2 linked regions of the Homo sapiens genome follow. The protein of the gene in region 1 purifies or fractionates together with the protein of each later gene. This does not show direct contact. Each region holds a gene or a part of one and is shown on either strand. Other genes may lie near its edges.

The links. Proteins that work in one complex are often made in the same cells at the same time.
Region 2: the proteins of DLAT (region 1) and PDHA1 fractionate together in Homo sapiens (co-fractionation; 3 studies listed by BioGRID). This does not show direct contact.

The regions. Positions count from the first base shown.
Region 1 is NC_000011.10:112,038,456-112,042,445, reverse strand, and holds part of DLAT (dihydrolipoyllysine-residue acetyltransferase component of pyruvate dehydrogenase complex, mitochondrial isoform 2 precursor), read right to left. Parts: intron 3,203-3,990; coding exon 3,049-3,202; intron 1-3,048.
Region 2 is NC_000023.11:19,346,819-19,350,775, reverse strand, and holds part of PDHA1 (pyruvate dehydrogenase E1 component subunit alpha, somatic form, mitochondrial isoform 1 precursor), read right to left. Parts: intron 1,465-3,957; coding exon 1,405-1,464; intron 840-1,404; coding exon 666-839; intron 1-665. UniProt on the Homo sapiens protein: The pyruvate dehydrogenase complex catalyzes the overall conversion of pyruvate to acetyl-CoA and CO(2), and thereby links the glycolytic pathway to the tricarboxylic cycle.

The DNA of each region.
Region 1 (3,990 bases):
GCTCTAGAACAGAGGTGGTAGTACCCCTATTAGATTTCTCTCCTTTGTAAAAGACAGAAACCATAACCTCCCCTTACAACCAAGGCTGATCTAGACACCACAGTCCCTCAAGAGGAGGAAATCCATAGTACCACCTGCCTTATGCTAAGCTTCAGCCACCCACAAGAATTTCCTGACTTAGGAGTTAGTTGAAACCTTGTAAACCCTTTTCCCTATCTCTCTTGGGCGGCACAACAGGCCATCATAAAGCAATATGGTATAAAGGGAACAACACTGGACTATGGGTAACAAAAAGTAGGGATCTTGTCAAACATAAACTATATAAACGTTTCATCCATTTCCATGGAGCAACCAAAATGATCTTTTCAAAACATAATCATTTTATTTCACTTCTTTGCTTAAATTTCTCAATGGCTTCCTCAAGTACTTTAAATAAAATTCAAACTCTTTACCATAATCTATAAGGTCATTTATGTTCTCATCCCTGTTTTTTTCCAATCTCATCTCCTACTAGACCCTTTGCTCATTATGCTTCATTAACACTGGCCTTTTTTTTTTTTCTTTGAGACGGAGTCTTGCTCTGTCGCCCAGGCTGGAGTGCAGTGGCACTATCTCGGCTCACTGCAAGTTTGGCCTCCCAGGTTCACGCCATTCTCCTGCCTCAGCCTCCCGAGTAGCTGGGACCACAGGCGCCTGCCACCATGCCCAGCTAATTTTTTTGTATTTTTAGTAGAGACGAGGTTTCACCGTGTTAGCCAGGATGGTCTCCATCTCCTGACCTGTGATCCACCTGCCTCGGCCTCCCAAAGTGCTGGGATTACAGGCGTGAGCCATTGCGCCTGGCCAACACTGGCCTCTTTTATGTTCCTCAGACATGCTAAACTCTTTCCCATTTCAGACTGTGTACAGCTAGTCTCTCTATCCAAAATGATCTTTCCCCAGTTCTTCACATGGTTGGCTCAAGCTGCCTCCTTCTTATCTTTCAAAACAAATCAAATGTCACCTCATCAAAAAGATCTCCCAACCAACCTGTCTAAAAGTAGTCATGACTGCACATATATCCATTCACCCTTTCACTCACTAGTATATCACTGAGTTTCTTTCTTTCTTAGCACTCAAATCATCTTATTTAATAACAAAAATATTATTATCATTATAGCTAATACCTAGATATGCTTTCTCTGTACAGGCACTGGTTAACTTATTTAAACCTCACAACCATTAAACCTAATGTTTTTATATACAAAGAAATTGTGACACAAAAGGTCACACAGCTAGTATAAAGAGCTGAGGTTCATACCCAAGCATTCCAGCTACAGAGCTCACACTCTTAACTACTATGCTATACTCCCTTTCTGTTCATTTAATTCTTTATTGTTGGTCATATAAGCAACTGAAACTGAAATCTTATCCATCTGATGAACAAGTGTCTGATGTGTAGATAGCAGTCGATGATATTTATCACCTAACTCTGCCTGCATAGTAAGAACAGTGGGATTTTCTTTCTTTCTTTTTTTTTTTTAACACTCCTCTCAGCTCATACCTAAGGGATTTTCCACTTATATCTTTAGTAAGGTAACGAGTATTGCTGAATATCTAATAAATGGTCCTTCTTTGCTTGTCTAAATTCTTTAGATATAATTATTAACCCAGTCCTTTCTCCCTTTAAAAGTTACTCCAACTTACACTGCTGTCCCTGATTCTAATCATATATACATATATGATAGCAATATACTACTGAAATGGCATTAAGATGGAAAAAAAAGAATCTTCCAATATTACAAGAATCTCTGAGGTCCAAAAAATTTACAACATTCTACTCTTGTGTCTTGGGATTGGCTTGACTTCTAACTACAAGATAGCAAATTGCAGATACGGGATAACCACCATTGAGTACCCATAACTAGAAAATTGGGGAAATAAGCATATTTTTCTTTAGTAATTATGGATGGCAGAGCATCAAAACAGAAGGCAGGATAGGGTAGTGTGAAGAAACAGGCTTTAGAGTTAAACAAATCTAGAGTTACACTGCAACTTTACTATTTAACAGGAAGGAAGAACCCTGAAGAGTCTGAGAGTCTGTTTTCTTATCCAGAAAATAAGGAATGATAATTCTTACTTCAAGAAGTGTTGTGTACATTAAGTATGGTAAGTTAAATGACTGACACATAGTACAAGCCATCAAACCAAGTTCCAAGCATAATAACTTCCCCCCATTCCAAATAAGTACCTTAGTTATCCTACACTAAATTTTAGCTTAAGTTTAATTCAAAAAAACTTATTTAAGCACCAGGCAGTAATATCAATATGAATGACAACTAACATGTATTGAGTACTTATATGCTAGATACAGTTCTAAGCACTTCACCTGTTATAGCTCATTTAACTCTCACAATCTATACGATGTACAGTACCTCAGTTTTACAGATAGAAAAGTAATTGACATAAGGACATACAATCTAAGTAATTCACTGGAAAACATATTACATAGAAAATTATAAAGCCAGGATTAAATGCTAGGTGGTCTGATTCCAGGCCCCATGCTCTTATCACAAAGCTATATTTTTTCTTTGGCGGCAGACAGACAAGTAAGGCGTTTTCCCTTGCCTTCAGGGAGCTCTAGTTCTGTTTTATATGAATTTTATTAAGTCATTCCAAATCACCCCAACTTCAAATTTTATTTTGCTTTGCTTATTGCTACAGTCAACCAAGCACTAACAGAGGTTTCTTATTACATAATCAAGTCCCATAACCAAATTTTACATATACTTTCACCAAACAAGCAGTTTCCATGAATAGAAGAGGAAAAAAAAAGGTATCTAAAGTGTATGGGTAGATTCTAGGCAGAGTAAATAAAGCTCAGTAAAAGTTTCCCTACTCTGTGGTGGCAACAAAAGAACTATTTCTCCCTTCTGAAGGAATTATTAATGATTGTCCCTACTATCCCAATTATAAGTACGGCTATACATAGTTGTACTTGCAAGTCTTAAGGAGGAAATTCAACTAAATTTTAACTTTATAAAGTCCATTCTATAGAAACAGATTTACCTTTTACTTGTGTAAGATCAATCCCTTTCTCTACTGCCAACTTCTTTGCAAGAGGGCTAACAAACACCCTTCCCTTTGGTCCAGCAGGAGTAGCTGGGCAGGGTGCTGAAGGTGTAGGAGCTAAAGGCTGGGGAGTTGGAGGAACAGCGGCCACCTTTTGAAAAAAAATTACAAATTGTTTTAATTCACCACTTCAAAGACTGGTCTGAAAGATTAAAAGTTTACATCTTATTAATAAATTAAAACTATTTTAATTAAATATTAATAACTTTCATTTTTCCAAAGATCATAATGTACTTTTCGCCAGCTTAACCAACATAATGTAGTAATACGAACAGCGAGAACAATATACTTCTATATCAAAGACAGAACAGTTACCTTATTCCATAACAACATGAAGCACAGAATTGAATATTGCCAATCAGTGTATAGTATTCTACAGCCTTTCTTCACTTTAATCTCTTACCACTTCTTTATTCGCATTCTTTTACATCACCAACATGATTTTTATTTTTAATTATCCTAACTTCTTTTTTTTTTTTCTTTTTATTTGAGACAGAGTCTTGCTCTGTCACCCAGGCTGGAGTGCAGTGGCGCAAACTTGGCTCACTGCAACCTCCGCCTCCTGGGTTCAAGCAATTCTCCTGCCTCAGCCTCCCAAGTAGCTGGGATTAAAGGCACGCACCACCACGCCCAGCTAATTTTTTGTATTTTCAGTAGAGATGGGGTTTCACCATGTTGGCCAGGCTGGTCTTGAACTCCTGACCTCAAGCGATCCACCTGCCTCAGCCTCCCAAAGTGCTGGGATTACTGGCATGAGCCACCACACCCAGCCAGCTAATTTCAAAATATAAAATTATGCTGTAAGGCCCCATGTTGAAAAGTATCTTAAGAAATACGGCCAGGTGTGGTGGCTCACACCTGTAATCCCAGCACTTTGGG
Region 2 (3,957 bases), on another chromosome or scaffold:
TGACCTAAGCCCACAAAACAAAAAACAAACTAATCCTTTCTCTCCAAATTATATACAGTACAGGCGATCATAGTGCCAGAAAGTTTTAAAATAGTAAAACTCTAAGAACAGGTACAGAAAACTGGCAATGTTATGTGTGAATGAATTCTTTAGCCTAAGCTTCATAGCAGGTTTTGGCATTCTACTTTTTAATTCTAAAATACTGGCTTCAGCCAGGCACAGTGGCTCACGCCTGTAATCCTAGCACCTTGGGAGGCCAAGGTGGGCGGACCACTTGAGCCCAGAAGTTTGAGACTAGCCTGGGCAACATAGTGAAACCCCGTATCTCCAAAAAATACAAAAATTAGCTGGGTGTGTTGGTGTGCACCTGTGGTCCCACATACTCGGGAGGCTGAGGTGGGAGGATTGCTTGAGCCCAGTGGACAGAGGCTGCAGTGAGCCAAGATCACACTGTACTCTAACCAGAGGCTGCAGTGAGCCAAGATCACCACTGTACTCTAACCTGGGCGACAGAGAGAGACTGTCTCAAAAAAATAAATAAATAAAAGAAAATTACATTACCAGCCTCAAACTCTTCTGATACATATGGCAGGGTAAAGCCCAATAAGTACAAGCCATACTTCAGTACCTAAATAACACAGTTCCACCACAAACCTACCACTCACCTGACCATCACACAAGTGACAGAAACCACGAATAATTTTCTGTTTATACAGCTGATCTGCTTTCAACTCCATTCGGCGTACAGTCTGCATCATCCTGTAGTATTTGAGCCCATCCTCCCTGGTGAGCACTGTTGTGACAGGAGGGCCTTCTTCCAGCCGGTGAAGGTCACATTTCTGAAATGGAATAAGGTAGTTATTATCCTCCACATACTACATTGCAAACACTGTTGACCACTCTAAGATCTAACTCCATTGCAAATAATATTGAACTTGAAAAACTGCAAAGGAGCACATCAGTAATGCTTCATATCGCCTCTGTTCCTTAAATCCATAAACCTCACTGTGCAATGAGATGGGGCTTGGGGGAAGGAAATCTTTCTAAGATGATTTTCACTGAAAGCCCCTAGAAGCCAACTGAGTTATAGGTTGAAAGAACCTTCAAAGAAACAACTAAGACTCTTCTTATTCAAATATTTCACTGAATTACATTCCAAACTTTTGAATAAGCTTTTATTTTTATTTTCATTTTCTAGCTCCTCCCCCTTCCCCCCACAGAACAACAGCAAGCTGCTAATAATAAATTCTAGTTTTCGTGAAGCTTCTCTGAACTTCTGATCCTGGAACATTTAGAAGAAAATGATGACTAAGCATGAACATCAAAATGTTCTATTCTAAAGGTAAAACTGTATATCAGAGTGTACCTGTGAAAAAATTATTAACAAAGTAAAACACCTCTTACCTTAATTTCAAATGTAGCATCATTTGCAAAATTACGGGATGCTACCAGCACTCTGCTTGCCTTAAAAGACAAAAATATACAAACAAATCAGTACTTTTTAATTGTCAGCTATTTTGGAAAGTATAATAATCAGTTATCAGAATGAAGTTATGGAAATTTAATAAGCCCCAACATATTCATAGGCTTCTCTTCCACCCTGTGCACTGTGTTTGCATCTTCCTTGGCCTCCAAAATGAATCCATGCTTTGGCCAATGAAACAGGATTATCCCGCATCTGAAGGCAAGCAGCGCAAAGAGGGGCAAAAAACAAACCCATCCTTTGTTTTCAAAGAAATTATAGTGAGAATATAATGAAATTAGTGGCTAAAGAGACTAGATCATCTGTGAGCTGTGTCTGTTTATGCCATTCTTTTGTTTGTTTGTTTTGAGACGGAGTTTTGCTTTTATCACCCAGGCTGGAGTGCAGTGGTGCGATCTCGGCTCACTGCAACCTCCGCTTCCCGGGTTCAAGTGATTTCTCCTGTCTCAGTCTCCCGAGTAGCTGGGATTACAGGTGCCCACCACCACGCCCGGCTAATTTTTATATTTTTAGTAGAGATGGGGTTTCACCATGTTGGCCAGGCTGGTCTCCAACTCCTGACCTCAGGTGATCCACCTGCCTTGGCCTCCCAAAGTACTGGGATTGCAGGCATGAGCCACTGCGTCTGGCCTTTTCATGCCATTCTTAGTCATAACCAGATACTGTTCATTTTGAGCAAGCCAAAATTATACTTCAAATAAAACTATGATTTAATCTCCACTCTAGGCAAACTTGACTCTTCTATCAAATTGGATCTGTAAGAAAAAATATTTTAAATTGATTGAAGTATGAGATAAATACTTTAGGGAGACAAGACAAAAGAAAAGATACTTAGCACTCTCTGACTTAAACACAATGGGCTTGAGCCAGCTGTTTTATAATTTATAATTTGAACAGCCTAAATCTTGGACAGGCTCCTCCTGAAGCCCCAGTAGAAATGTTCTCTGAAACACTGTTCTCTTGATGTTTGGGTGGCTGTCACTGTTTGGAGGTAAAAAGCTTGGAGGCGGGGGGTGAGAAATGATTCCTTTCCAGTTTTACAACTGAGCAAACCTGCTCACAGCAAAAGTATTCTATGTAATGGCTAAGGTTTAGGTTAGACCACAAAATTTATCCAGTAGTATTATCATACTATTTTAGCTCCCTTCTGCCACATTCTCACACACTGACGTGTAAACCAACATGATTTCTCCATAAAAAGCACATCTGATGTGTTCATACCTTACCTAATCCAGCACTGGACTGATCTTGGTGAGAAGAGTTAAGACTGATCTGCCAAGTATACCCTGGAGTGTACAAGCCAATAGGCAGAAAGCTAATTACGTATATCTTCACCCCTCAATAGACCATTATTGGACAAAGCCAACAAACACAGACAATGACAGTGCTGGAGGAAAACAACTGAAATACTAGGAATCAGTGTTTCAGTTAACTTACAGGCAGAGACAGTCCACTAATGTATCTCAGAAAAAGTGAAGGAAATTTAGGAATTTGGGAAGAAGTAAAGCTGAGAGAAGGTGAAACAGCAAATCAATGGTTATATTTAGCAATCAAACAGATGTGTTATTCTTGGCAGTTAATAAATATTTTGTGGGGCCAGAAATTTATTGTATTGTGAAATAAATTTCCAAATACAACTACAGAAACTGCAGTTTTTGGAAGGCAGGAGTCCAAACCAGCCAGGCGACAGTAACAGAGAAAAGGTAACTTCTTTCTCAATCCTAGAGTTGAAACAATGAGGCAGGATAATGCTATACAATAAAGAGCAAGAAGGGGCCCAGTGCTGTGGCATGCGCCTGTAATCTTGCGCCTGCAAAGATTAGGACTGCCAGAAAGCTACTTAGATACTTTCTCCCATGGCTTCATTACTGTGTATCTCAAAAATAAGAACCACTGATATGAGTGAAAGGAACAAAGTTAAAGAAGCTAAAAGTCCTATCAGAAGTGTGTGTGTATCATTTCTGAGTGAGAGCTTGTTGAAAAGATAAGTTTACCATTCATTTTCTCTGGAGAGCCATAAAAAGATTCTCTGTTAAATGGGATTCCTCTCTGACAGAGACCACGAACAACCCACTCAAATTTTAAAAAATAAAAACTAGGCCGGGCATGATGGCTCACACCTATAATCCCCAGCACTTTGGGAGGCCAGGGTGGGAGGACCACTTGAAGCCAGGAGTTCAAAGCCAGCCTGGGCAACATGAGACTCTCATCTCTACAAAAATAAATATTAAAAAATTAGTCAGGTATGGTGGCACACACCTGAGGCTACAGTGAGCTATGACTGTGCCACTGCATTCCAGCCTAAAAAAAAAAATTAATTAAAAAAAAGTAAAACTTTAACTTCCTAAATACATAGGAACCATTCATGTGAAAGAGGAAAAACGTTTCAAAAATTCCAGATTCTAACAGTGTAAATTAAAACTCTTACCTACCACTTATAAAGCCAAAACATTGCTAGTAAAGATCTCACAAAA